2 linked regions of the Homo sapiens genome follow. The protein of the gene in region 1 purifies or fractionates together with the protein of each later gene. This does not show direct contact. Each region holds a gene or a part of one and is shown in the gene's direction. Other genes may lie near its edges.

Region 1 (3,810 bases):
GGCTCACCCCTGTAATCCCAGCACTTTGGAAGGCCGAGGTGGGCGGATCACTTGAGGTCAGGAGCTCGAGACCAGCCTGGCCAACATGGTAAAACCTCGTCTCTACTAAAAATATAAAAATTAGCCAGGCATGGTGGCACGTGCCTGTAATCCCAGCTACTTGGGAAGCTGAGGCAGGAGAATCGCTTGAACCCAGGAGGTGGAAGTTGCAGTGCGCCGAGAACCCACCACTGCACTCCAGCCTGGGTGACACAGCGAGACTCTGTCTCCAAAGAAAGGAAAAAAAAAATGTGTTAATACATCTATAAACTGCTTGAAATGGTGTCAGGCAGATACGTCTTATATCAGTATTGTTGTTGTTTTAGATGTGTGGACTGAGTTCCACATGGTGCTTTTCCTAAGTAGGAAAATTGTGCAGTTTAATAAATGACCAAGGCCAGTGCAGTGGCTCACACTTGTAATCTCAGCACTTTGGGAGGCCGAGGTGGATGGATCACTTGAGGTCAGGAGTTTGAGACCAGCCTGGCCAACATGTTGAAACCCCATCTCTACTAAAAATACAAAAATTAGCTGGGCGTGGTGGCACATGTCTGTAGTCCCAGCTACTCTACTCGGGAGGCTGAGGCGCGAGAATTGCTTGAACTGGGGAAGCGGAGGTTGCAGGGAGCCGAGATCACAACACTGCACTCCAGCTGGCTGACAGAGCAAGACTCCGACTCAAAAATAAAATAAATAAATAAATAAATGACTGAGCCAGGACTTGAACTTGGGAATCTGGCCCCGGAGTTCAGACCCAAACCACTGTGCTGTACGAGTTAATATGTGTAGGGGACAGAGAAGGTACCTGGCGTGGGAGGCTGAGGACCTGGCCCTCTTTGCACCCAGGATGCTGATGTACCAGCACCAGAGGGTGTCGGAGAGGTTTGACGTCATCGATCTGGACCCCTATGGCAGCCCAGCCACCTTCCTGGATGCAGCTGTGCAGGCTGTGAGTGAAGGAGGTGAGGTGGGGATGGCACTGGGGTGGGAGCAGGGCTTGGGGTGTTGGAGGGTTCTCACTGCCCAGCCCCTCTCTGCAGGGTTGCTGTGTGTGACCTGCACAGACATGGCGGTGTTGGCGGGGAACAGCGGGGAGACGTGCTACAGCAAGTACGGGGCCATGGCCCTCAAGAGCCGGGCCTGCCACGAGATGGTGAGGGGCCCTCTGCCAGCCAGCCAGGGAGACCGGGGGACAGGTGGTTGTCTGAGTCCCTTCCCAATACACTTTCCCCCTCCTCAGACCTGCTCAGCTTCCTCCAGGCTGATGGCCAGATGCATCCCAGGCTGTTAACGACAGGCGTGTCTTCAACCCACATAGTTCCTAAGAGCATGGCTGATAATCATGGTCATTTGGGGACAGTGGCTTTGGCCAGGACAGGAGTGCATGGCCACATTATTTTAGTTTTCTGTATTAAAACAACTTTTCAAAAAAAAATTTTTTTTTTAAAGGTCGTTTTTCCAGGACTGGGTTTAAATCCTAGCTTTGCTGGTAGCTCTGGGCAAGTGACTTCACCTTTCTGGTCCTCGGGTTTTTTTGCATCTGTAAAATGGGCACAATGATGGTCTGAAGGCCGGGCGCAGTGGCTCACACCTGTAATCCCAGCACTTTGGGAGGCCTAGGCAGGTGGATCACCTGAGGTCAGGACTTTGAGACCAGCTGGCCAACATGGTAAAACCCCATCTCTACTAAAAATACAAAAATTAGCCAGGCATGGTGGCAGATACCTGTAATCCCGGCTACTCAGGAGGCTGAGGCAGGAGAATCACTTGAACCCAGGAGGCGAGGTTGCAGTGAGCCAAGATCACTCCGCTGCACGCCAGCCTGGGAGGGAGACCCCATCTCAAAAAGAAAAAAAATAGGCCGGGCGTGGTAGCTCACGCCTGTAATCCCAGCACTTTGGGAAGTCGAGGTGGGCGGATCATGAGGTCAGGAGATTGAGACCATCCTGGCTAACATGGTGAAATCTGATCTCCACTAAACATACAAAAACTTAGCCAGGCATGGTAGCGGGCACCTGTAGTCCCAGCTGTTCGGGAGGCGGAGGCAGGAGAATGGCGTGAACCCAGGAGGTGGAGCTTGCAGTGAGCTGAGACTGTGCCACTGCACTCCAGCCTGGGCGACAGAGCAAGACTCTGTCTCAAAAAAAAGAAAAAAAAATAGGCCGGGCGCGGTGGCTCACGCCTGTAATCCCAGCACTCTGGGAGGCCGAGGTGGGCGGTGTTCAAGAGGTCAGGTGTTCAAGAGCACCCTGGCCAACATGGTGAAACCCCGTCTCTACTAAAAATACAAAAAAAAAAAAAAAAAAATTAGCTGGGCGTGGTGGTGGGTGCTTGTAATCCCAGCTATTCGGGAGGCTGAGGCAGGAGAATCACTTGAACCCGGGAGGTGGAGGTTGCGGTGAGCCGAGATGGCACCATTGCACTCCAGCCTGGGCAACAAGAGCAAAACTCTGTCTCAAAAAAAAAAAAAAAAAATGGTCTGACCCTATTGAGTGTCTGATCAGGATTCAAGAAGGCTGAGTGGCGAAGTGCAGCGGCTCATGCCTGTAATCCTAGCACTTTCGGAGGCCAAGGTGGGAGGATCACTTGAGGTCAGGAACCTGGGCAACATAGCGAGGACCCCATCTCTACAAAAAAACCCTAAAAATTACCTAGGTGTGGTGGTGGATGCCTGTGGTCCCAGCTACTCTGGAGGCTGAGGCAGGAGGATCACTTGAGCCTAGGAGTTCAAAGTTATTGTGAGCTTTGATAGTGCCACTGCACTCCAGCGTGGTCCACAGAGGGCTCTTGCCCTTGTTCCTAAAGGGTCCTGTCATGAAGTCAGCCCGGGAAATGCTGTCTCCTTTCCCATATCAGAGTCTCACACTAGCAGGAAAGCCCTAGCCGTTTTGCTTTTTTTTCTTTTTTGAGATGGAGTTTCACTCTTGTTGCCCAGGCTGGAGTGCAGTGGTGAGATCTCAGCTAACTGCAACCTTCGCCTCCCAGGTTCAAGTGATTCTCCTGCCTCGGCCTCCCTAGTAGCTGGGATTACAGGCGCCCGCCACCACACCCAGCTAATTTTTTGTATTTTTAGTAGAGACGGGGATTTCATCATGTTAGCCAGGCTGGTCTCAAACTCCTGACCAGCCTCCCAAAGTGCTGGGATTACAGGCATGAGCCACCACGCCCGGCCCAGGCCCCAGCAGTTCTACAGCACCTAGTATCCCCACTTCCTGCCCACAGAGCCCTTGGGGGCTGGAACGTGGGTCCTCAGTACATGCCACATGGCACACCGATAATGCTGGTCAGAATAGGTTGGATCTATGCTTTCCTCACTCGTTTAGTGCCCCCAGCAGTGCCACAGACAGGGACTGTTGTGATTTTGCAGATGAAGAAACTGAGGCACAGAGAGGGGATACTCACTTGTTGAGGGTCCCACAGCCAGGACTTTCAGGGGTGGGCTTGGATCCCAGGGAGCTGGCCCTGAGCCTGTACTTGTGAGTACCACATAGGGCTCCTGGTGGGGTGGGTGGATAGTGGAGGGGAGGCTGACACCCACCCCCCACCCCCAGGCCCTGAGAATCGTCCTGCACAGCCTGGACCTCCGCGCCAACTGCTACCAGCGCTTCGTGGTGCCGCTGCTCAGCATCAGCGCTGACTTCTACGTGCGTGTTTTTGTCCGTGTCTTCACCGGCCAGGCCAAGGTCAAGGCCTCAGCCAGGTCAGCCCGGGGGCAGAGAGCGGTGGTGGATTGAGAGAGGAGACAGGACCTTGCCCTGGGGGATCTGGGGC
Region 2 (3,500 bases), on another chromosome or scaffold:
GTGAAACCCCGTCTCTCCTAAAAATTAAAAAAAAAAATTAGCCAGGCATGGTGGTGGGTGCCTGTAGTCCCAGCTACTCAGGAGGCTGAGGCAGGAGAATGGCATCAACCCAGGAGGCAGAGCTTGCAGTGAGCTGAGATCGCACCACTGCACTCCAGCCTGGGCGACAGAGCGAGACTCCATCTCAAAAAAAATAAATAAGATGTCAAAGAGGCTGTGACCTGAGGAGATTACCTGTATTTGGGGGAGAGGTGGCAGGAACCATGCCAGGAGGGAACAGCATGCACAGAACCTGGAGCCGAATAGAACACTCACGCCTCACCTGATATGTTTGACGAATTACAGGTTGTTCAGTCTGGTTTGGTCAGAGTGTGAGGAAAGGAGAAATGAGACCACAGATAAGAACCAGAGTGTGAAGGATCTTGCACTTGATATGAAAAGAGTTTTGCCTTTTTCCTGAGGGCATCAGAAAGTCATTAAGGTGGGTGTGGTGGTTCACGCCTATAATCCCAGCACTTTGGGAGGCCAAGGCCAGTGGATCACCTGAGGTCAGGAGTTCAAGACCAGCCTAATCAACATGGTGAAACCCTGTCTGTACTAAAAATACAAAAAGTAACTGGGCGTGGTGGCGCGTGCTTGTAGTTCCAGCTGTTCAGGAGGCCGAGGCAGGAGAATTGCTTGAACCTGGGATGCAGAGGTTGCAGTGAGCCGAGATCACACCGCTGCACTCCCAGCTGGGCGACAGAGTGAGACTCTGTCTCAAAAAAAAAAAAAAAATTGCTGAGGAAAAGCAGCAAAAAGGGAGGGAAACGTTGCAGGTACATGAAAGAGAGATAGCAGTTGATGGAGCTAGGGTCAAGAGAAGAGAGGAGGAAGTGGGATCCAGGGCCCTTGGGGGAGATTAACTTTCCAGTGGATAAAAGAAGGAAGGAAGAGATGGTTGCAGATGCAAGTGGGTCTATAGGAAGGGTTTCAGGGAATGAGATGAGCCAGGTTATCTGCTTAGAATGAGGGAAGAAAGGAGGTGAAATTGAAGGTTGAGAGAGGAATAGCTGGGCTCTGAACCTGAATACAGACAGAGGTCTGCCTGTGGCTTAACATGTGCTAGCCTAAGCCACCAAGGAGCAGGACAGTTTTCAAGTATAACCGAGTGGTCACGGGTCAGAAGCCAGGAGGTTGACAGTGAGGTCAATGGGACGGGGCTGGCCATTTGGCAGCAGCAGTTCCCCAGGAGAGCTGTGTTGCCATTGGGACAGAGGGTAGAGAGAATGTCAGCAAAGGGGTGGGTGTTTACCTTTGGGAAAGGTATTCTGGAGGGTGCAGTAGAGGGGCTTGAAGGAGAGGAAAGCAAAGAGAGCTTGGGCCACGGGAAATAAATTGGTCACGTGGAGATGAGATTATGGAAAGACTAGCCGGGTAGAGAAGCTTCTGTTTTGAGATGGTGCTTAACAGGGACCAGGGATGAGAGGCATGGTGGCAACCACAAGGTGGCCAAGACAATTTGTCTCCAGTTGGATGGGATGTCTGCCTGGACACAGTCTGTGCTTGCATTGGTTGCAATTCTGAGAGTCATCTCTGATGGATGGACATAGATACCTTGGCCTTGGACAATTTGTGCTGACTGTGGAGCATCTGTGGGTCCTGTGGCTGGCAGTGGAGGCGGTAAGGAGATGACTAGCAGTGAGCTACCCTAAGGCCCCCTTGTCTACCGCCTCTCGTCTCAAAGTCCTCATCCTCCTGTACACATGACTGCATGGACAGCCAGTAGGTGCTTTCTTCTTCAGTTTCTTGAAACTTGAACAGTCATCTGTTTTGCTGATAGATTAAGTTTGTTAAAACCCTGCCTTGTCCAAGGGCAGTGGTTCATGCCTGTAATCTCAACACTTTGGGAGACCAAGGTGGGAGGATCACTTGAGCCTAGGAAGTCAACTCTGTTTTTCTTATAATTCTACCATCCGCTCTCCACCATGGAGCCAGACTGACCTTTGGAAAACATCCCCCAACCCCCCACCGCCAAAAAAAACAAAGAAAAGAAAAACATCCCAGATCATTTCATTCCCCTGCTAGTGATACTCCCGCATGAGTGATTTTCCTTTGTACTTTGAATAAAATTCCAACTCCTGCTGATGGCACCCAAGGGCTGTGTGTAACTGGCTTCCGCCTGCCTCTCCAGCATTGTCTTAGATCATCTCCCCACACTCCCCGTGTCGTGTACATGCCGGCCTCCTTTTTGTTCTTGGTCTGTCTTACCTCAGGGCTTTTGCACATGCTCGTCTCAGTGTCTGCCAAATGTATAGCTCGTTCCTTATCCTTCAGGTCTGTTTCCAAATGTCACTTCCTTGGAGGCTGTTTCTGACCATCCTGTTTTAAATATGCCCCTAGTTACTCTATCATGTTAGCTTTATTTACTGTTTTATTTGTATGTTTATTTGTATATTGATTGGTGTTCTCCTCATTCACACACGCAAACTCTCAAATGTAAATTTCATAAAGACAGGGACTTCCCCATTCTTGTTCACTGCTAGCAGAATATCTGAAACTCAGAATGCCCTCAAATATTTCTTTTTTTGTTTTTTTTTTGTTTGTTTGTTTGTTTTTTTTTTGAGACGGAGTCTCGCTCTGTCGCCCAGGCTGGAGTGCGGTGGCGCGATCTCTGCTCGCTGCAGCCTCCGCCTCCCGGGTTCAAGCAATTCTCCTGCCTCAGCCTCCTGAGTAGCTGGGATTACAGGCACCTGCCACCATGCCCAGCTAATTTTTGTGTTTTTAGTAGAGACAGGGTTTCACCATGTTGGTAAGACTGGTCTCGAACCCCTGACCTCGTTATCCACTCGCCGCGGCCTCCCAAAGTGCTGGGATTACAGGTGTGAGCCACTGCGCCCAGCCTAAGTTTTTGAATTTTTAGTAGAGACGGGGTTTCACTGTGTTAGCCAGGATGGTCTCGATCTCCTGACCTCGTGATCCGCCCGCCTTGGCCTCCCAGAGTGCTGGGATTACAGGTGTGAGGCACCATGCCCAGCCACCCTCAAATATTTGCTGAATGAATGGCTATCGTTCTTTGTCAAATCCCTTTCTCATTAATCCCATGCACTGAGTAGAATGGCATGAAATATGTTTGGTTTCTCTGTCTAGTTTGAGTTCCTGAGATCTAGTTGGTGAGAGACATGATGTTCTACCGGTTGCTGTCGATTGTTGGAAGACAAAGAGCCAGCCCAGGATGGCAGAACTGGTCCTCTGCAAGAAACAGCACGTCAGCTGCCGAGGCGCGTTCCATGGCCCTGCCCACCCAGGCACAGGTGGTCATCTGTGGAGGTGGAATCACGGGCACTTCTGTGGCCTATCACCTCTCCAAAATGGGGTGGAAGGATATTGTCCTTTTGGAGCAGGGCAGGTAAGGATCAGACTGCATTTGGCTCATGGCTGTGCTGCACTAATCGTATAAGATTCCCTCTCCTTTCAGAGATACTGCCCCACCAGTAGCTAATCTAAATGTTGCTAAGTAG

What was found.
Region 2: the proteins of TRMT1 (region 1) and PDPR purify together in Homo sapiens (co-immunoprecipitation; 2 studies listed by BioGRID and IntAct, with this or other methods). This does not show direct contact.

Annotation. Positions count from the first base shown.
Region 1 is NC_000019.10:13,110,087-13,113,896, reverse strand, and holds part of TRMT1 (tRNA (guanine(26)-N(2))-dimethyltransferase), read left to right. Parts: intron 1-885; coding exon 886-1,001; intron 1,002-1,079; coding exon 1,080-1,192; intron 1,193-3,590; coding exon 3,591-3,739; intron 3,740-3,810. UniProt on the Homo sapiens protein: Dimethylates a single guanine residue at position 26 of most nuclear- and mitochondrial-encoded tRNAs using S-adenosyl-L-methionine as donor of the methyl groups. tRNA guanine(26)-dimethylation is required for redox homeostasis and ensure proper cellular proliferation and oxidative stress survival.
Region 2 is NC_000016.10:70,117,332-70,120,831, forward strand, and holds part of PDPR (pyruvate dehydrogenase phosphatase regulatory subunit, mitochondrial isoform 1 precursor), read left to right. Parts: intron 1-155; exon of another isoform or gene 156-1,764; intron 1,765-3,129; 5' UTR 3,130-3,161; coding exon 3,162-3,388; intron 3,389-3,500. UniProt on the Homo sapiens protein: Decreases the sensitivity of PDP1 to magnesium ions, and this inhibition is reversed by the polyamine spermine.